Regions from separate parts of the Homo sapiens genome. Here region 2 is linked to region 1. The links come from fine-mapping of genetic effects on plasma protein levels. Region 1 holds a variant in brackets. A gene starts in the other region. All regions are shown on their reverse strands.

Region 1 (11,722 bases):
TCTTTTTTTTTCTTTCTTTCTTTCTTTCCCTTCTTCTTCTTCTTCTTCTTCTTCTTCTTCTTTTTCTTCTTCTTCTTCTTCTTCTTCTTCTTCTTCTTCTTCCTCTTCCTCTTCCTCTTCCTCTTCTTCCTCTTCTTCTTCTTCTTCTTCTTCTTCTTCTTCTTCTTCTTCTTCTTCTTCTTCTTCTTCTTCTTCTTCTTCTTCTTCTTCTTCTTCTTTCTTCTTCTCCTTCTCCTTCTCCTTCCTTCCTTTCTCTCTTTCTTTTCTTTTCTTTCTTCTCTGTCTTCTTTCTTTTTCTTTTTTAAAACAGGGTTTTGCTCTGTCTCCCAGCTGGAGTGCAGCAGCCATGGCTCACTGCAGCCTCAACCTCCTGGGCTCAAGTGATCCTCCTTCCTCAACCTCCCGAGTAGCTGGGACTACAGGCATGCACCATGATGCCTGCTAATTTTTGTATTTTTTTGTAGAGATTGTTGCAGGGGGGGTCTTATAATGTTGCCCAGGCTTGTCTCCAACTCCTGGGCTCAAGCATCTGCCCACCTCGGCCTCCAAAAGTGAGCCACCACGCCCAGTAAAACACTTAAAATGTCACTTTAGGTCCTGTGGGAAGAGCAGCGTGGAGGTGGGCTGAGGTTAGAAGGTGCAGAGCGTGGAAGAAGATTGTGAGCTGAGTATTGGACATCTGTTCTTGAATAGTCCCTGGGCCTGCCATAGGAAAGGAAGTTCTCCAGGGTAAGTGACTTGGACTTTTCCTTTTCCTCTAATAACATTTTTTCTTGGGCTGTGGCCGAACCTTAGGATTCGGTTCATCCCTTATTCAGACCAGGTTAGCTTTTCCCTGCTCTCACCTAGCCATCCCACCTAGGCACAGAAGACCTTGCTTTCATAACAGATAGCTTTCTCCCTGAGGGGGGAACTCTGCCAGCAGTTAAAGGAGTGATTCCTTTCCACTACATTCTTGCACAGTTCCCATGAATTTGAAGGTAAAACAAAAAACATGAAAGATACTTTGAGCTCATTGTGAGCAATGTTGAGTATTCACTCTCCTTTACCATCAGAATTCCCTTGGGAATGTTTGAAAAACAGTGCTTTAGGGCTTTAACAAAGTTAAACACTGATGGAGGGGGTTTAATGCACTTAAAATAAAATCCAAACTCCTCTTCAGGCACAGTAGTATCCGGCCCCTTGGTACCTCTCTGACCTCTTCCATCCAGTCTCTCCTTTGGTCCACTATGATCCAGCCAGTTTGAGTTTCTTGCAGTTCCTAGAATACTTAGAGCTCTTTCCAGCCCCAGGGCCTTTGCACTTGCTGTTCCCTCTGCCTGGGATGCTCCTCTGCATGTTCTGCCCTTGACTGGCTCTTGCTCTTCTTTCCCTCCAATGCCATCTCCTCAATGAAGTTTTTCCTGATTTCTCCTCCTGATGCACTCCCTACCCTTGTTCGTCTTTATCCCAACATCTCCTTTGCTTCCTTCATAGCACTTACCATAATCTAATACTTTTATGTGTCACATTTTAATATCTGTTTCCCCCACTGGACCAAAAGCTTCAGGAGGATAGGGACCAGTACTGTTTTGTTTTTCGGTGCATCACTGGGAAGTGGCACAGTGCTGGGCTTTTAGTAGGATCTCAATATGTAAATACTGAATGAATGATTGAATTGAGTATAATGCATGCCCCTCCAAGGGATTCTTGAAGATGTAAAATCTGCCTTATCGAGGAACGAAGTTATGATAGTAGAAAGATGGCATAGGGTTGATATTTTAGATCAGGGAGATCTAGTGTGATACTTCCAGTTTCTGCCATCTGCTCTGCTGACCCAGAAGGCTGACAGAGCTCTTTTTACAAGAGGTTAAAAAAAATTCTGGGCTGGGCACTGTGGCTCACATCTATAATCCCAGCACTTTGGGAGGCTAAGATGGATGGATTGCTTGAGGCTAGGAGTTCGAGACCAGCCTGGGCAACATGGCAAAACCCCATCTCTACTAAAAACAAAAAAAATTTAGCTGGGTGTGGTGGTGCATGCCTGTAGGTCCAGCTACTTGGGAGGCTGAGGAAGGAAGATCGCTTGAACCTGGGAGGGGGAGATTGCAGTGAGCCAAGATCGCACCACTGCATTCCAGCCTGGGTGATGGAGCGAGACTCTATCACCAAAAAAGAAAGAAAGAACTTCTGAAGACAAAAGATTAGCTTTTGAGGACCCTTAGTAAGGTTTGTTCAACCAGAGGCATTGCTTTTGAAGACATGGGCTAGTATTTATTTTGTTTCCAAAATTTTAGATTTGGAGCAGTAAAAAATGATCACACACTTCACGATATATCAGTCTTTCAGGGAAGGCATAGTCCTTAACACTTGTTGATGAGTTTTAAGTTGATTCTCCTTTAAACAGATTTTTTTTCCTTTAATCCACAGGTTACAGTTCTTATCCGCGTGAATACACATGGCTCTGTTACGAAAAAGTAAGATTTCAACTTTTGAAAATAATGATTTAAAAACATATTTGGGAGGATGGTTTTGAGGCTGGGGCTTGGCTCTTTTCTTCTTTCTTGGATTGTGTTTGATTTTCATGGATAGTTTTCCCACAGGCACTTTTTGGCATCATCATTTCCAGATGATTCCCATGGAGAGTTGTTCAGTATTTTAGTCAGAAGTGGACTTATCGGCTGGGCGCACTGGCTCACGCCTGTAATCCTAGCACTTTGGGAGGCTGAGGTGGGCGGGTCAGTTGAGCTCGGGAGTTCGAGACCAGCCTGGGTAACATGGAGAGACCCCATCTCTACAAAAAATACAAAAATTAGCCAGGCATGGTGGCGGACACCTGTAGTCTCAGCTACTCGGGAGGCTGAGGCAGGGGGATCACTTGAGCCTGGGAGGCAGAGGCTGCAGTGAGCTGAGATTGCACCACTGCATGCCAGCCTGGGAGACAGAGTGAGACCCTGTCTCAAACACACAAAAAAAAAAAAAAAAAAAGAAGAAGAAGTGGAAGTGAACTTACAGCAGGGATCATATATTTCTATAAAACTTGCAAAAATAATGCATTTTCTCGTTCGGAATAAATATTCATGTTCATAGCTAATTTAGCATTTGTAATTTGTAATTTTGCGTTCTTAGTCTTAAAGAGTCATCTCGAATCTTCATACCCATCAGAACCTGGATTTGCCTCTGATTTTAGATCCAGTAGTTTGTGAATTTGAGGAGAAACATAGTAACCTAATTCTGTGACCCTCAGGGTAGAGTTGCCAGATTCAGCAAACAAAGACTCAGAACAGGACAACCAGTTAAATTTGAACTTCAGATAAACAACAAATAATTTTTTAGTATAAGTATGTCCCAAATATTGCATGAGACATACTTGCCTGGGTAATTTTTGTATTTTTAGTAGAGATGGGTTTTCACCATGTTAGCCAGGCTAGTCTTGAACTCCTGACCTCAAGTGATCCACCCGCCTCAGCCTCCCAAAGTGCTGGGATTACAGGTGTGAGGCACTGCGCCCGGCCGTGGCAGGTGAATATTAATCGGGCCTGTTGATAAACTGTAGAATTTTGTCCATTTTCTGTCCATTTTCTGCTTCTCTGTAGTTTTGTTTTAAATGGAGTCTAGTATCTGATTGTCCCTGGCTGAATCTGATAATCCATTAAGGCAGGGAGGAACTGGGTGTCAGCAAAATAGAATCACAGCCTCAGGATGTAGCTTTGGAGGGCATCCACGAAGACTCTTTTACAAATGGGAAGACAAAGGCATAGAGGCCAAAAAATAGATGCATATGAAGTCAATAGATTAAGTCTCTTGATGCATAAAAATAATAAAAAATAATACAGGCCAGGTGCGGTGGCTCATGCCTGTATTCCCAGCACTTTGGGAGGCCGAGGCAGGTGGATTGCTTGAGTCCAGGAGTTCGAGACCAGCCTTAGCAACATGGTGAAACCCCGTTTCTACTAAAAAATACAAAAAATTAGCCAGGTGTGGTGATATGTGTCTATAGTCCCAGCTACTTCGGAGGCTGAGGTAGGAGAATCACCTGAGCCTGCAAGGTTGAGGTTACAGTGAGCTGAGATCACACTGCTGCACTCCAGCCAGGGCAACTGAGGTGAGACCCTGTCTCAAAAAAGAAAAAAAAAGATAAAATAATAATAACAATGATGCATAACCATTTGTAAAGTCTTTATTGGGCCTGCATTGCCTTGGTTAACTCTCAAAACAGTAGTGCGAGGTAATGCTTATTATTACAATCTTCATTCAGCAGATAAGCACACCAAGCTCAGAGAGGTTAAGATACCCCTCGGCCATACAGCTAGGAGGTGGTAGAAAAGAGATTTGAGTCTGACTTCAAATTCACACCCTCTTCCCTTCTACCAACTTTTCCCAAACTTTAGGTAGGTGTGCACTACACATGCCAACATGCCATCTTCTCAATTTTTCATCAGCTGTGTTCCTTCTGTCCTAAACATTTCTTAATATTTTCTTTAGGCCAGGCACAGTGGCTCATGCCTGTAATTCCAGCACTTTGGGAGACCAAGGTGGGAGGATCACTTGTGGTCAGAAGTTCAAGATCAGCCTGGCCAACATGGTGAAACCCTGTCTCTACTAAAAATACAAAAATTAGCCAGGCATGGTGGTGGGGGCCTGTAATCCCAGCTACTCGGGAGGCTGAGGCAGGAGAATCGCTTGAATCCAGGAGGCAGAGGTTGCAGTGAGCCAAGGCTGTGCCATTGCACTCCAGCCTGGACAACAAGAGTGAAACTCCATCTCAAAACCAATTTTGTTTTCTTTGACTAATTTTAAAAATTTATAAGTGTACTTCATAATAGAAAGTTTTTATCCTTACTGCAAATGAAAACAGAATGATTTCCTATCATTAAAAAAAAAAGGTAGCTTTAAACACATATACAATTAGGAGAATGTGATTCAACTCTGGGTAGCTTTTGTTGTGTTCCTGCACATAAAATCAGAAAGATTGACTTTCTCATATGCTGATTAAATATTAATGCTATGAACATGAACTTCCTCAGTCATTTCATGCACAACCAGTGCTATATGTTCCATACTCAAGAAAACACTGTTTTACACCACTCTACTTCTCAACAGATCTCAAGGGCCAACATCACTGGAACAAACAGAGCTGGAGGCTTGGAGGCATTGAGGTCTTCTGTTTACCAGGGCAAGAATTTCTTTCTTTCTTCCTTTCTTTCTTTCTCTCTTTATTTTTCTTTCTTTCTTTCTTTCTTTCTTTCTTTCTTTCTTTCTTTCTTTCTTTCTTTCTTTTCTTTCTCTTTCTTTCTTTCCTTCCTTCCTTCCTTCCTTCCTTCCTTCCTTCTTTCTTTCTTTCTTTCTTTCTTTCTTTCTTTCTTTCTTTCTTTCTTTCTTTCTTTCTTTCTTTCTCTCTCCCTTTCTTTCTTTCTTTCTTTTCTTTCTCTCTCTCTCTCTTTCTTTCTTTCTTTCTCTCCTTCTTTCTTTTTTGACAGAGTCTCCCTTTGTCACCCAGACTGGAGTGCAGTGGCATGATCTCGGCTCACTGCAACCTCTGCCTCCCAGGTTTAAGTGATTCTCTTGCCTCAACCTCCTGAATAGCTGGGACTACAGGCATGCGCAACACCTGGCTAATTTTTGTATTTTTAGTAGAGATGGGGTTTTGCTATGTTGGCCAGGCTGGTCTCAAACTCCTGGCCTCCAGTGATCCACCTGCCTTGGCCTCCCAAAGTGCTGGGATTACAGGTGTGAGCCACCACACCCGGCCTGCACATCATCCTTGACCAAGGGTTGAATTAACTGAAAAGCAGCTGTGTCATAATGGCTAAGAACATGTATTTATAATTACTACTGGCTCATAAGAAGAATCACATAAATTCAACAAAATAAAAGCCACATACGGCAGACCCACAGCTAGTATCATACTAAATGGGGAAAAACTGAAAGCCTTTCCTCTTACATCTGGAACACGACAAGGATGGCTGCGTTTCACCACTGTTATTCAACATAGTAGTGGAAGCCCTAGCTAGAGCAATCAGACAAGCAAAAAAAATAAAGGGCATCCAAATTGGAAAGGAAGAACTCAAATTATCCTGTTTGCAGATGATACGTTTTTGTTTTGTTTTGTTTTGGAAGGAAGGTCTTGCTCTATTGCCCAGTGGTGTGATCTTGGCTCACTGCAACCTCCACCTCCCAGGTTCAAGCAATTCTCATGCCTCAGCCTCCCAAATAGCTGGGATTACAGGCATGCACCATCACGCCCAGCTAATTTTTGTATAATTTAGTAGAGATAGGGTTTCACCATATTGCCCAGGCTGGCCTTGAACTCCTGGCCTCATGTGATCTGCCCACCTCAGCCTCCCAAAGTGCTGGGATTACAGGTGTGAGCCACTACAACTGGCCAATATAATCTTATATTTGGAAAATTCTAAAGACTCCAGCAAAAAACTATTAGAACTGATATACAAATTCAGTAAAGATGCAAGACCCCTGAGCAACAATAGTGTTCCAGGTTAATTCTTTCTGTTTGTTTGTTTTTGTATTTGAGACAGGGTCTGGCTCTGTCACCCAGGCTGGAGTAATTTTGGCTCACTGCAGCCTCCACCTCCCAGGCTCAAGCCATCCTCCTATCTCAGCCTCCTTAGTAGCTGAGACTACAGGTGCATGCCACCACGCCCAGCTAATTTGTGTGTGTGTGTGTGTGTGTGTGTGTGTGTGTGTGTGTGTGTTTGTTGTTGTTGAGACAGGGTCCCACTCTGTTGCCCAGGCTGGTCTCGAAACTCCTGAGCTCAGGTGATCCACCTGCCTTGGCCTCCCAAAGTACTGGGATTACAGGCATGAGCTACCACACCTGGCCAGGTTAATTCTTTATTCTATATGCTGTCTGCTTATAGAAAGGTCTCAGATACCACTCCTCTGTGTCATGGAAGGCACCTACTCGCACTACCATTCTAAACTTTGTCACGTGATTTCAGGTTCATAGGTTCAATGTTAATGTGTTTCCATTTCTATTTCAGTTAATCAGGTGCTGCTGTTCCTTCTGATCGTGACCCTCTGTGTGATTCTGT[A/G]TAAGAAAGTTCATAAGGGGACTGTGCCCAAGAATGACGCAGGTGAGCAGACATGGAATTCATTGAGTTGGGATACCCAGGAATGTGGTTTGAATATGTTCCTCTAGGTCCTTTCAATAGCTGGGTTCAGGGACAAGTGACAGTTTGGTCAACTCCCAAGGACCTGCTAGTAGAATATCCGCCCTAGACCACCTTTTCAGTCGTGCCCTAGGATGGTCGGTGCTATTCAAACTTTAGCATGTGTGAGAGTCACATGGAGAGCTTGTTAAAACACAGCACTGGGCCCACCCGTGAGGTGTAGGATCAGTAGGTATGGTGTGGGGCCTCAAGACTTGCATTTCCGATAAGCTCCTGGTTGAGGCTGATGCTGTAGGTTCTTGGACCACAGGGTGAGTGCACTGCTCCACACTCCATCTCTTTGGAGCTTCTCAATGACTTTGCTTATGGAAACCACCCTCTTTCTCCTCTCCCTGCTGGTTCATTCCCATCAGTGCAAGTCAGCCTCATAACTCTCAACTTGAAAATGGCCCTTCATTGGCCCTGTGGTCTCTCCCAGCTGCACTGAGAACCATGTTTCCCTCCTCGGGGGTGAATTGCCTGAGATGGCACCTTCAAAACTCCAATGCACACACAAAGTCAACCTCCATAAAAATCAGGAAGCACTGTTTATTACATTTTTAATTAATTTACTTTTTTTTTTGAGACAGAATCTCACTCTGTTGCCCCAGCTCAAATACAGTGGCACAATAGCAGCTCCCTGCAGCCTCGACCTCCAGGGCTCAAGCAATCCTCCGGCCTCAGCACCCCAGGAAGTTGGAACTACAGGTGTGTGCCACCACGCCCAGCTAATTTTTTGTAGAAATGGGTTTTGCCATGCTGCTCAGGTTCATCTTGAACTCCTGGGCTCAAGCTGTCCTCCTACCTTGGCCTCCCAAAGTGCTGGGATTACAGGCATGAGCTCCATGCCCAGCTAATTTACTTTTTATATAAATCAAGCAAATACACACTTACGGGCTGGCGATGGTGGCTCATACTTGTAATCCAGCACTTTGGGAGGCTGAGGCGGGAGGATCACTTGAGTCCAGGTGTTTGAGACCAGCCCAGCCTAGGCAACAAAGCAAGACCCCATCTGCATGCACACAAAAAATTACCTGGGCATGGTGGGGCATGCCTATAGTCCCAGCTACTTGGGAGCTGGAATGAGAGGATCACTTGAGCCTAGGAGGTCTAAGCAGCAGTGAGCCCTGATAGTGCCACTGCACTCCAGCTTGGATGACAGAGTGAGACTCTGAATACAGTTATTTGGTGTGTTACATACATTTATTCCACAGTTTTGTTTTTTTTTTCAGTCAGACACTTAGGGACTGGAAACACAACAGTGAACAAAACAATATCCCTATTCCCAGGAAGCTGGCATTTCTTTCTGATTATATTTTGTAATTTAAAAATTCATTTAAAAATAATTAAAAACATGTATAATCTGATCTAAATGAACATGGAATCTGCAAAGAGAATGATTTTCATACAAAGACATATATACAAATGTTCTTAGGGTATAATTCATAGTAGCCCCAAACTGGAAACAATTCACATGTACATCAACTCGTGAGGGATACAAAAAATGTAATTTATCTCACACAATGAAATACTTTTCGACAGTAAAAAGGAACAAATGACTGATACAAGCTGCAATATGGATGAACCTGAAAAAAAACTATGCTAAATAAAAGAAGTCAGACCTGAAAGACCATATATTGTATGATTCCATCTATATGAAATTTCTAGAAAAGGAAAATCTATGGAGACACAGAGCAGATCAGTGGTTGCCTAGAGCTGGGAGTGGGAATGGACTGACTGCAGACCAGGCAGCTCAATGGAACTTTCTAAAATTGGATCTTGGTGATGGTTGTGCAATTCTATAAATTTACTAAACATCATTGTACTGTACGCTTACAATGGGTAAATTTTTAAAAATCTGTATTCGTTTGCTTGGGCTGCCATAACAAAATAGCACAGACTAGGTGGCTAGACCATAGAAATGTATTTTCTCTGGTTCTGGAGGCTGGAAGTCCAGGATCAAGGTGTGAGCAGGTTTTGTTTCTCCTGAGGCCTCTCTCCTTGGCATGCAGATGGCCGCCTTCTTGCTGTGTCCTCACGTGGCCTTTTCTCTGTGCTGCATTCCTGGCTGTGACCCTCTGTGTGATTCTCCTCTTTTCCTCCTTTTATTAGGATACCAGTCTTACTGGGATAAGGCCTACCAAATGGCTTCATTTTAACTTATTTGCCTTTTTAAAGGCAATTAAGTGCATGGACATCCTGAGATGCTGGAAGCTAAGACGTTAACAAACGGACTCTGGAGGACACAATTCAGTCCATAGCAGTATCTACACCTCAATAAACTGTTCTAAAAGAGAGAGAGAGAGAAGGAAGTCACATAAAGACAAATGTCATCTGAACTGACTCCACTCTTCATGCTTCAATCCCTGCTCATAAACCAACACATTCACTCAGCTAATCCCACCACAGACTCCCTTCTTCAGGAAAATAAGTGGATAGGTTTTAAAACAGCTGTTAAAACAGCTCCAAAGAAATGCACATCCTGACTGCCTAATCAGACCTATACAGAGAAACAAAGCATTTGGACCGCATGAATGGATCCATTATCACATGTTTATCCATTCAGTGTTAAAATTTTTTAAAATCGATGTTATAAAATACCATTCAAACGAATGTAGCATTGGCATGGAAGAATGCTTGTGGTATGTTAAATGGGAAAAGCAAGTTGCAGAAGAGACTGAAAAGTATGATTCCATTTTGGTTTTTAAATAATAAGTGTTTAAGGTATATATATATATATATATATATTTTTTTTTTTTTTTTTTTTGAGACAGAGTTTCGCTCTTGTTGCCCAGGCTGGAGTGCAATGGTGCCATCTCGGCTCACCACTACCTCTGCCTCTGGGTTCAAGTGATTCTCCTGCCTCAGCCTCCCGAGTGGCTGGGATTACAGGCATGCGCCACCATGCCTGGCTAATTTTGTATTTTTAGGAGAGATGGGGTTTCTCCATGTTGGTCAAGCTGGTCTCAAACGCCTGACCTCAGATGATCTGCCCACCTTAGTGTCCCAAAGTGCTGGGATTACAGATGTGAGCCACTGCGCCCGGCCCAGGTATATATTCTTTAGTATTACCATTAAGAAGGGTTTAAGGGGCACACACCACACTGGTTGTGTTATATATTGTTATAAAGCAGAGGTCTACTTTTGGAGTGGGAGTGAGAGGTCTGCAGAAAACAGTCACAATTTACCAAATACTCTTCTGTTTGGGCTGAAATTTTTTCAATAATTATGTATTATTTTTTATAATTTGAAAAACATTAATTCAAAGAACTAGTGTTCTAAGTTGATGTCCAGAGGCCCTGTGAAGTCCTACGTTCAAGTAAAACATGGCGGTATTCTCTGTAATATCCCCATTGTGACACTCCATGTAATCTCCCGATACTTCTCTTGTGACTAGTGTGCTGGTCACTCGCAGCTGTCCCACTTGGGGAGAGGTAAGCTGATACACTTGGCTAAAACAATCCTTATTTGAAATGGAATTCTGAGTCATGGCATTAGGAAAGCAGACATTTCCTTTCTTCTAGGAATAGGCGTGGCTTGATCAGAGCTGCTTATGGAATGGACGAAGGCAGTATCATTTCTGTTCCATTCTGCCAGCATTGTGATGTTTACTATTTTTGTTAGGCACCAAATAGTTTCCCATAGCCAACATTTTAATGCTTTGGCTCAGGCACCAGTTGGTACAATGAATCCAAATAATGGAGCAGATAATTCCTAAAGAAACTGCAAGGATGGAGCATTGATGAAGAAGGTACAGTTGATAAGCCTTTCTGCCACATTTCTCCAGTGTGCATTTGTCCTTCATTCTGTCCAGGGGGAACTTTTTGGCAGAGAGCAGTATTTTTGGCTTAAGTTAGTGCTCAGTTTCTCTACCTGGCAGAGGCCCCTAAGGAGTGTGGCAGTGTCATGTGTTGGCAGCAGAGCTGGACACTCAATGTTTGACCTTTTTCTGGAGTGTCCCCTCTTTTATGAGGACACTTTCCTTTTACCTTGTGCTTCCCACAGTCTGCTGAAGGCCTCCGTCTGACTCTGGCAGCCAGGCACAGCCCCAGCTTTTTTACCCTTCCCTCTTATTCCTCAAGGGCCCTGTTTTCTGAGACTCATTCATCAATTCCATTTAGTTCATTCCAGCAAACTTTCATTAAGCACTTCCAAAGTGCCAGACTCAGTGGGGATAATATAATGAGCTTACAGTCTAGTGGAGGAGACAGACACATAAATAGATTCTTCCAGGCATTGTGGCAAGTGCTCAAATAGAGATATCTAATATTCACCCATCTATTCAGATCGTATTGAAAATCTACTATGTGCCAGGCACTGGGACAGCTGCAGAGGATACAGAGATGAACAAAATACCTGCCCTCACAGAGCTCCTAGTGTAATAGGAGAAAGAGGAAAGACATGCAACCAAATAAATTCCAACGCAATTAATAAATTCAACCATAGGCAAGGCCACAGCATAGAGAAGGTGCGTGTTAATTTATGTGTAGGGAGGTATTAAAGGCTTCCCAGAGGATCTGATGTCAGTACTGCATTTGGAATGAATATGTAAGGGTTAGCCATGCAGAAAAGGA
Region 2 (8,000 bases), not on the chromosome of region 1:
GAAAGCAGACAAATAATTACATTCATAATTAATTGCAACTGGAATAAGCTGATGTCTTAAAGATAAGAGTTAGCTAACAACAAGATTGAGAGGTACAGAGGCCTAGCATCCTCAAGAGACAGAGAAGCTCCTTCAAAGGTCATAGTGAGACAGAAACATGGCAATGTGAGGGTCAAAAAGAAGCCAGTGTGGGTACAGCGCAGAAACCAGCAGTGCTGCAAACTGAACATTCCAAGAATGGGCAAGTAGTAGGCCAAGGTCAGATCATCCCCAATCTTGAAGATCAATGTTTGGAATTTACTTTTTTAAATAAAGCATCACTGGAAGTAACAAGTAGAAGCAAGTAACAAGCAGAAACAAGGAAGTTTAAGTAGACACAGTGTGCAGTCTGATTTTTATGCAGACAAGAAGAAAATTGCTTGGAGATGTATGAACATAGTCAAGACCCTACCCAGAACACCTGGGTTTGAGATGATGGCAGTCATGGTATGAGACACAGACAGACCAAAAAGATACTTGGGTGTAGAACACAAAAGATTCACCAATAGATTCAATTTGAAAGTCAGGGAGAAGTATTTACATCAGTGGTTCTCAAGGTTTGGTGGGACCTGGGACACTTGTTTAAAATGGAAGTTCCTGGGCCCATGCTCAGAGGTTCTGATTTTGTAGATCTTGAGTATAAAGATGCTGGAACCTGAATTTTTAATAAGCAGCTCTGGTAATTCTGATGATGATGGACCTCCGGCCACACTTGAGAAGGTACTAATTTAAAGGACTCCCAAACTTCTGGCTTACACAAGAGAGTGGTCAGGGTTGGCATGGGGGCACCATTTACAGAAAATGTGAATGATGATGGCCAAGAAAGCCTGTGAGTATGGGCCATGAATTCAGGAGCCTCTGCTCCTCATAGCCCCCTGGGAGCAGATAGACTAAGAGACTGACTGCAATTAATGTTTGGACTGTTTCTATAGGGCTGCCCAAGTGGCCTTTCTGATAGAAGTAGTTCATCAGCTAAGTGTCATTATCTGCCTTACAAACTTGATTCCATTTAGAATGCTGAGAGGTGGTTACTTCCAGGCATATGTCTGCCTTGACCCTGCTGACACTGGCTACCTGTGAGAGTACCACCTACTCCCTCCTCCTAGATCACTAGGCATCAGCCAAGCTGGCCTGTCACCACTCTGATACCAACTTGGCTTGCCCCATCACCATATTTAGTTCTAAATATCTAAACTACTTAAAATAGTTTCTGCCTGCCCTTTTTCAAAGATTAATTAATAGTCAGGGCATGGTGGCTCAAGCCTGTAATCCCAGCACTTTGGGAGGCTGAGGCGGGTGGACTGCCTGAGGTCAGGAGCTCGAGACCTGCCTGACCAACATGGAAAACCCCCGACTCTACTGAAAATACAAAATTAGCCAGACATGGTGGCACATGCCTGTAATACCAGCTACTTGGGAGGCCGAGGCAGAAGAATTGCTTAAACCCGGGAGGCAGAGGGTACAGTGGGCCAAGATCACACCACTGCACTCCAGCCTGGGCAACAAGAGTGGAACTCCATCTCAAAAATAAATACTTAAATAAATAATAAAGATTAATAGCCAGCTGCGGTGGCTCATGCCTGTAATCCCAGCACTTTGGGAGGCTGAGGCGGGCGGATCACCTGAGGTCAGGAGTTCAAGACCAGGCTGGCCAACATGGTGAAACCCAGTCTCTACTAAAAATACAAAAATTAGCTGGGTGTGGTGGTGCACACCTGTAATCCCAGCTAGTCAGGAGGCTGAGGCAGGAGAATCGCTTGAACCCAGGAGGTGGAGGCTGCAGTGAGCCAAGACGGCGCCATTGCACTCCAGCCTTGGCGACAGAGCCAGACTGTCTCAACAACAACAAAAAAGATTAATAGACTTTATTTTTTAGAGCAGTTTTAGGTTCACAGCAAAACTGAGTGGAAGAACAGAGACTCCCCAGATCCCTTTCTTTGCTGAGTGCCCTTTTTCTGGTACTGTACAATGCTCCAGGCCCATCTCCTACTTTCCTTGCTCCAGTCCTCCTGGAAACAGCCATTTCTCCAAGGAGCAGCCCTGGTTCCTTTTACTGGAAAATGATGTTAGAAACCAAGATCTGGGCTTTGTGTTTGTTGCTGCTTAAAGTGCTCCTGCTTGTAGGATCTCTCAGCCAACAGAGCAAGGAGGTCTATGTGTGTACTATGTGTATATAACATAATTACATTTCCCTTTTAACCAGCTGTATCTATATTAAGCTAAATATGAGTTCATACTGATGTCTTCAACTCTAATCTATTACCACATGAATCACTGTCACCACCTCACCTCGCTTATTTATTTGTAACTTCCACTCCAACGGTGAGACACCTGGCTCTCACCATCTGCCATACAGTAACTTAATTGTTCCATTCCAGTCCCCACATACAGCGGTGCCTGAACTGTTGACCCGTACCCCCATGCCTCATTCATTTTTATCCCTTTACCTTGCATTATTCTCTTCCATCGCACTCTACATTGTTTATATTCTGCATTTTATGCTTATTTATGTTTATTTTCTGTTTTCCTTCTCTATAACAGAGACTTTCACTGCTGAGTCCCAAGCATCTAAAATCTGCACAAAGTAGGTGTCCAGTGAATAAAGTGGAACAAATGAGCAGAAAATTGTAATGCTTATTATGTTAATTAAGCAGGTCTCAGGAGGGCCTTTCCTAGCCAGTCCTGTGTCACTCAGCTTTGAGATACTGAATCTATTTCAATCAAAGTATAATCATAGCATATAATTTACACTTTTCAACAATTCAACTCCTTTTCTCCCCAATTGCTACAATTATAACCACTTAACTAAAACAGTGAACTATTACAAACTCACATCCCCTATTTTTTCCTTTAAGGCCTGACTCTAACTACCACCACCTCCCCCCATCCCCATCCCTTGCCACCTTAAACCTCCTAGATAGACACTGCCAATCAGTTTAAATTTTCTAGACATTTTTATTCTGTCTGCTCTAGTTATCTACTGATTTTTCTTTCACACTTGTTAAAAACATGAATAACATAATCAATATCATAAATCCAAATCACAGAGTTAATGAGAAGTTATATAAACATTAGGCTGTTGATTTTCAGTTAATCTTCCAAAAGGACTGTGAAGGCCTATAAAACAATTTTTTGAAAAAGTACACAGATTTGCTCTCTCTTCCTTAGTGAAAGCCTGAGTTTTAAGAACAAAGACACTAACAGAAAACATATGGAAAAGATCAGTAACAAGATGGAATCTTGGCTAAAGTGTGGTCTGCCACGTTTTTCATACCAATGTCTCAAATAATAGACTAGATTTTTACAACTGCCAAAGCATCACTTGAAACACTGTATACTTTTCTTAATGCAAAGTTTAACAAAATAAATCTTGTGAGTTCTTTGTAAAAAGCTAATGGAAAACACTTTTTTGAGGAAACAAAATGAACTCCAGGATTCACTTTATCTTATTAGTTTGTAAAAGCTTAAAAGAATTCCCCCCCAAAATGAACTCCGAATCTACTGCCAAAAGACACAAGTCAACTCTCTGTTTAGAATATGAGAACAGTGTAAAAATTAAACATTAAAAACAGTTAACTGTTACTATTCAGGAGAGATAGCTCTATGAAATGAAGAAATTTTCTAAATCTACAAAATAAAGGCAATAGCTATTGAGTAACATAAGCTTTTCATCCCATTTTATTCAATACTACAGAATTATTTTGTGCAATAGTAAAAACAGGCAAATTGAAGATACACCTTTGGAGTGCAACCAACTGACTAATTTTATCTGAAAGGATATTAGAAGTCATTCTAGTGGGTACATCTGCCAAAAAGAGGAGAAATGAGATAGCTGATAAAAATGATGATAAAAATGAAGATGTAAGCCTTTGTATAGAAAAGTCGTATAGTTAATCTGTGTAAGCAATGACAATCAAGTGCATTTTAAAAATAAACAATGCGAAATGTTATGTTTCTAATCCTGATTTCTTGTTTTAACAAATAGAAGTACTGATATGAACCTAGGTGTTGAATAACCAAGGGACTCAAGAAATTTTGAGTTCCAGGCCAGGCGTGGTGGCTCATGCCTGTAATCCCAGCAATTTGGGAGGTGGAGGCGGGAGGATCACCTGAGGTCAGGAGTTCAAGACCAGCCTGGCCAACATGGTGAAACCCCATCTCTACTAAAAATACAAGAAATTAGCCAGGCATGGTGGCTCATGCCTGTAATCCCAGCTACTTGGGAGGCTGAGACAGGAGAATTGCTTGAACCCGGGAGGTGGAGGTTGTGGTGAGCCGAGGTTGCACCACTATACTCTGGCCTGGGCAGCAAAGCAAGACTCCATCTCAAAAAATTAAAAAAGAAATTTTGAGTTCCACCTTAAGTTGCTGAGACTCTGGAGTTCCCTGTCACAGTGGGCCTTAATTTGAAGAATTCTTTGGCATGAAAATGAAAATAAAAACAGTAATCAGTACATGCTGTTTCATTTAGTTTTGTTTGCCTTTCACATTAGAGGAAATTCTTGCCACACCTCAAACCAAAATTAAGGGGAAAAGAAAGAAGTAAGCCACATAAATCTGACCAAGAACACAAGCATCTTAATTTGAATCCACAAAGTTTCATGTAATGAAAAGAAATACATAATTTTAATTCAACCCGAGTGTTTTCCAAGAAGATTGTATTTGCTTAAATTGCTACAGTAATTCAAGAGACAGCCCTGTCTGGACACAGAGTTACTGTGGATTTTTAAGAGACTCAGTTAAAGAATTTAGGAATTTCTGATTCATTTAAAGGATTTACAAATTCATCAACCCCTGAAAACTAAAGCAAATTGAACAGGTATGATAATAAAATAATTTTCAATTTTTTAAGAATGTATTCCTACTGTTAAAATTTAAAAGTATATTGGATTTTTTAATATTAAAATAGACTGCATCTATTACAAAAGCACAATTTTTGGAAGCAAAATCTGGTAAAAAAGTTATGTTAAACTTTTGATTAGGCAAAATGTTCAAATAAAGTAGTATAATGAGTTTAACTTTCTCATTTAAGATTTACCCAATAAAAAATCTTTGTTTAGATTTTTTTTTACTTTGAATGAAAGGAAAGATTCTCAGGTTAAAGGAATCAATCTCTTTCTCTTCCTTAGGTCTCTTTTTTTCTATGAATTATAAGTAACAAAGAACCAGCTAATGCCTTTGAGGCATACAGCTGAGCAATGCTAGTGATTCCGGTTGGGGGGTTGATGGGCATTTGTACAAATTTCACTCAAGATTTTCTCCAAATTTCTCTACTGACTAAATCCCTGATATAGAATGTTTTTCTTTTCATTTACTTCTTTCTCAAAGGGAAAATACAGATGCTCTATCTAGTCTATTGAAGGATCTAGTTACTTTGGGTTTTAGTTAATTACGATTTAAATGTATTATGGCTAAAAATAATTGAGGTAATTGTATTTTTAATAGCAAAAAAATTTTATAAAATTAAAATTTAGAACTTTTTTGGAAAAATCTAAATTATATGCTAATATTTGCTTTCTTATATGCTAGTTTCTATGTCATACAAATAAAAACAATTATGTCTTTAACATAATAAAATGTTGAGGATTTTACTTTAAACTTTTCCTGAACAAGTAAATTATACCTCATTAGTAATTTCAATTGAAACTTTTCTTGATGAACACGAGTGCTTTTCTCCAAGTAAGAGAAATATTATGACACAGATGGTTTTATTGCTATAATATGAAAAATTCACATTGAAAACTGGTAATATATATATATTACTTTGCTCCAAACATTCTTTTTCACATTTGTTCTTTTCCTGCTACACGATGTACTAGGAAAGTGAGGAATACAGTATATTGTGATGAAGAAATATTCAATAGAAAAAGGAACAGTCAAGCTCTCATGAATATGTTCATTTGAAGAAATTATCATAGTGAAATAAATGCCTAGGAATAATCAACATTAGTAGAGAGAAGCATTTGCTAGCAAGCCTTAACCTATAACTTATTAACTTATTCATTCAACACACCTTTGAGCACTTATAACACTGCATTGTATTAGATTCTGTTAAAAGATATTAGGAAATGAGATGATCAACAATGAATTATACAATATTGCTGTGAGTTATCCTATAGAGAACAAGGCATACATTGTAGAGTATGAAAAGCAGAAGTAACAAAAATATGCTTAGCAAATGACTCAGAAGAGATTAGTTGGGGAATGAAAAATTTGGATAAAATAAGAGATTGTTGTAACAGGGGAAATTATCCTGGGGAAAGAGCAAGAGGCATAGAAAATAATGAGCATATAGATGAAAACAGGATGGATTTCAAAACAGAAAACTGCACTTAATCAAAGGGAGTGGGACAAGATTGTACTACATGGTTAGGAACGTGGAGGGAGGAGGACAAGGATGTTTAAGATAAGTTCAGGTTTAGAAGAGAAATTGTTCCTCAAGGAAAGACTTTCTTCTTAGGTGCTCACAAAGGCGGAAAGCAGACAATATTAAAAACCTCTTTATTTTCAGAGACGCCCCAGTCATGTCTTGATTCAAGGCCTTCTTCTTTTTTCCCAACAATTTTTCATAGTTGTTGAACAACAGACTCTAATTCTCAAATGTAAGGTTGATAACTGATGATTAGCTAATGTTCTCAACAAAGGGATAAAATTCAAGCTGAGTTTTCAGCCAGGCAGGTGGCTCACACCTGTAATCTCAGCACTTTGGGAGGCTGAGGTGGGCGGATCACCTGAGGTCAGGAGTTCGAGACCAGGCTGGCCAACATGGCAAAATCCCGTCTTAACTAAAAATACAAAAAAATGTAGCCAGTCGTGGTGGTGCACGCCTGTAATCCCAGCTACTCAGGAGGCTGAGGCACAAGAATCACTTGAGCCTGGGAGGCGGAGGTTGCAGTGAGCCGAGATTGTGCCACTGCACTCCAGCCTGGGTGACAGCACGAGACTCTTGTCTCCAAAAAAAAAAAAGTTAATATGTTATACTATAATAAGTACAATAAAATATTATAAAATTATACATAAAATATCATCAATGAGTATAAAATGTATAGAATATTCTATATCCATTCCTATTAATCTCCCAAAGTCTGGGTCAAATGATGTCTACAAAAGACTTTCCTGTCTCCGTAAGGCTGAGGTAAGCCACTGGCCCCACAGCATTGCCTATCTCTGCTATAAAGGATATTACCCTCTGCCTTAGATTAGGGTTCACTTTGTTGTATCTCTCTCCTCCACTAAGCTGTTTGCTCTTTACAGAAGGGACTATGGCTTCACGTCTTCTTCATTTCTGTATTCTCCACCAACTTAGCATAGTGCCTCATCACTAGAAATAATTCAGGACAACGGTAAACTGATGTAACCCAATCAAACTAACTACTAATATTTGTAAAGTGCTTCACTAAGCATGTTTACATACAGTAAAGTAGTAGAGTACACTAGGTGAATAAGCATTTCCAAGCAGACCCACTGGGAGCTTCCAGCCCAGCAAGGAGAGCCTGCTCTGAACACTGCCCTTTGGTATGATACCATAACTCCTTAAATCTACCTCCTTCCAAGATTCTCTACTTTTTCACCCACGAACACTGACTGTAGTGTGAAATCACAGCCCAAATATGTTAATTCATTAAATTAGGCATTCATTCCCAGAGTGCAAATTCCTCAGGTCAGAATTTAGGCCCTCCAAGGCCGGGGGTGGTGGCTCATGCCTGTAATCCCAGCACTTTGGGAGGCTGAGGGGGGCAGACTGGTTGAGCCCAGAAGTTCATGACCAGCCTGAGCAACATGGCAAAACCCTGTCTTTACAAAAAATTAAAAAATTAGCCAGGTGTGGTGGCACGCATCTGTAATCCCAGCTACTCAGGAGGCTGAAGTAAGAGAGTCACTTGAGCCCAGGAGATGGAGGGTGAGCCAAGAGTGCACCACTGCGCTCCAGCCTGGGTGACAGAGTGAGACTGTCTCAGAAA

Direction of the effects. Positions count from the first base shown, and alleles are read on the strand shown. Strength reflects both the effect of a copy and how common the allele is.
For the plasma level of the protein whose gene starts at base 4,589 in region 2, allele G in region 1 goes with a lower level than allele A (moderate association).

The links. PIP is the chance, under the fine-mapping model, that this variant and not a neighbour inherited with it causes the effect. Protein levels are from antibody-based Olink assays in UK Biobank. Linkage for the fine-mapping came from a reference panel and not from the study's own genotypes, which makes the PIPs less certain.
Region 2: OMD starts here. The variant in region 1 is fine-mapped to the plasma level of the OMD protein (UK Biobank, PIP above 0.99).

The regions. Positions count from the first base shown.
Region 1 is chr12:104,010,364-104,022,085 of GRCh38, reverse strand. It overlaps GLT8D2 (glycosyltransferase 8 domain containing 2), which reads left to right. Exons shown (of 11, transcript NM_001384711.1): 2 at 595-729; 3 at 2,410-2,456; 4 at 6,981-7,073. The coding sequence starts at 2,438. Among named protein-coding and RNA genes, the nearest start is that of GLT8D2, 34 kb to the left of the region's middle. RefSeq lists a silencer at 7,497-7,719. The variant A/G (reference allele first, on the strand shown) is at 7,032.
Region 2 is chr9:92,421,060-92,429,059 of GRCh38, reverse strand. OMD (osteomodulin) reads left to right here and starts at 4,589. Exons shown (of 3, transcript NM_005014.3): 1 at 4,589-4,858. The region is part of intron 5 of CENPP (centromere protein P); the gene reads right to left.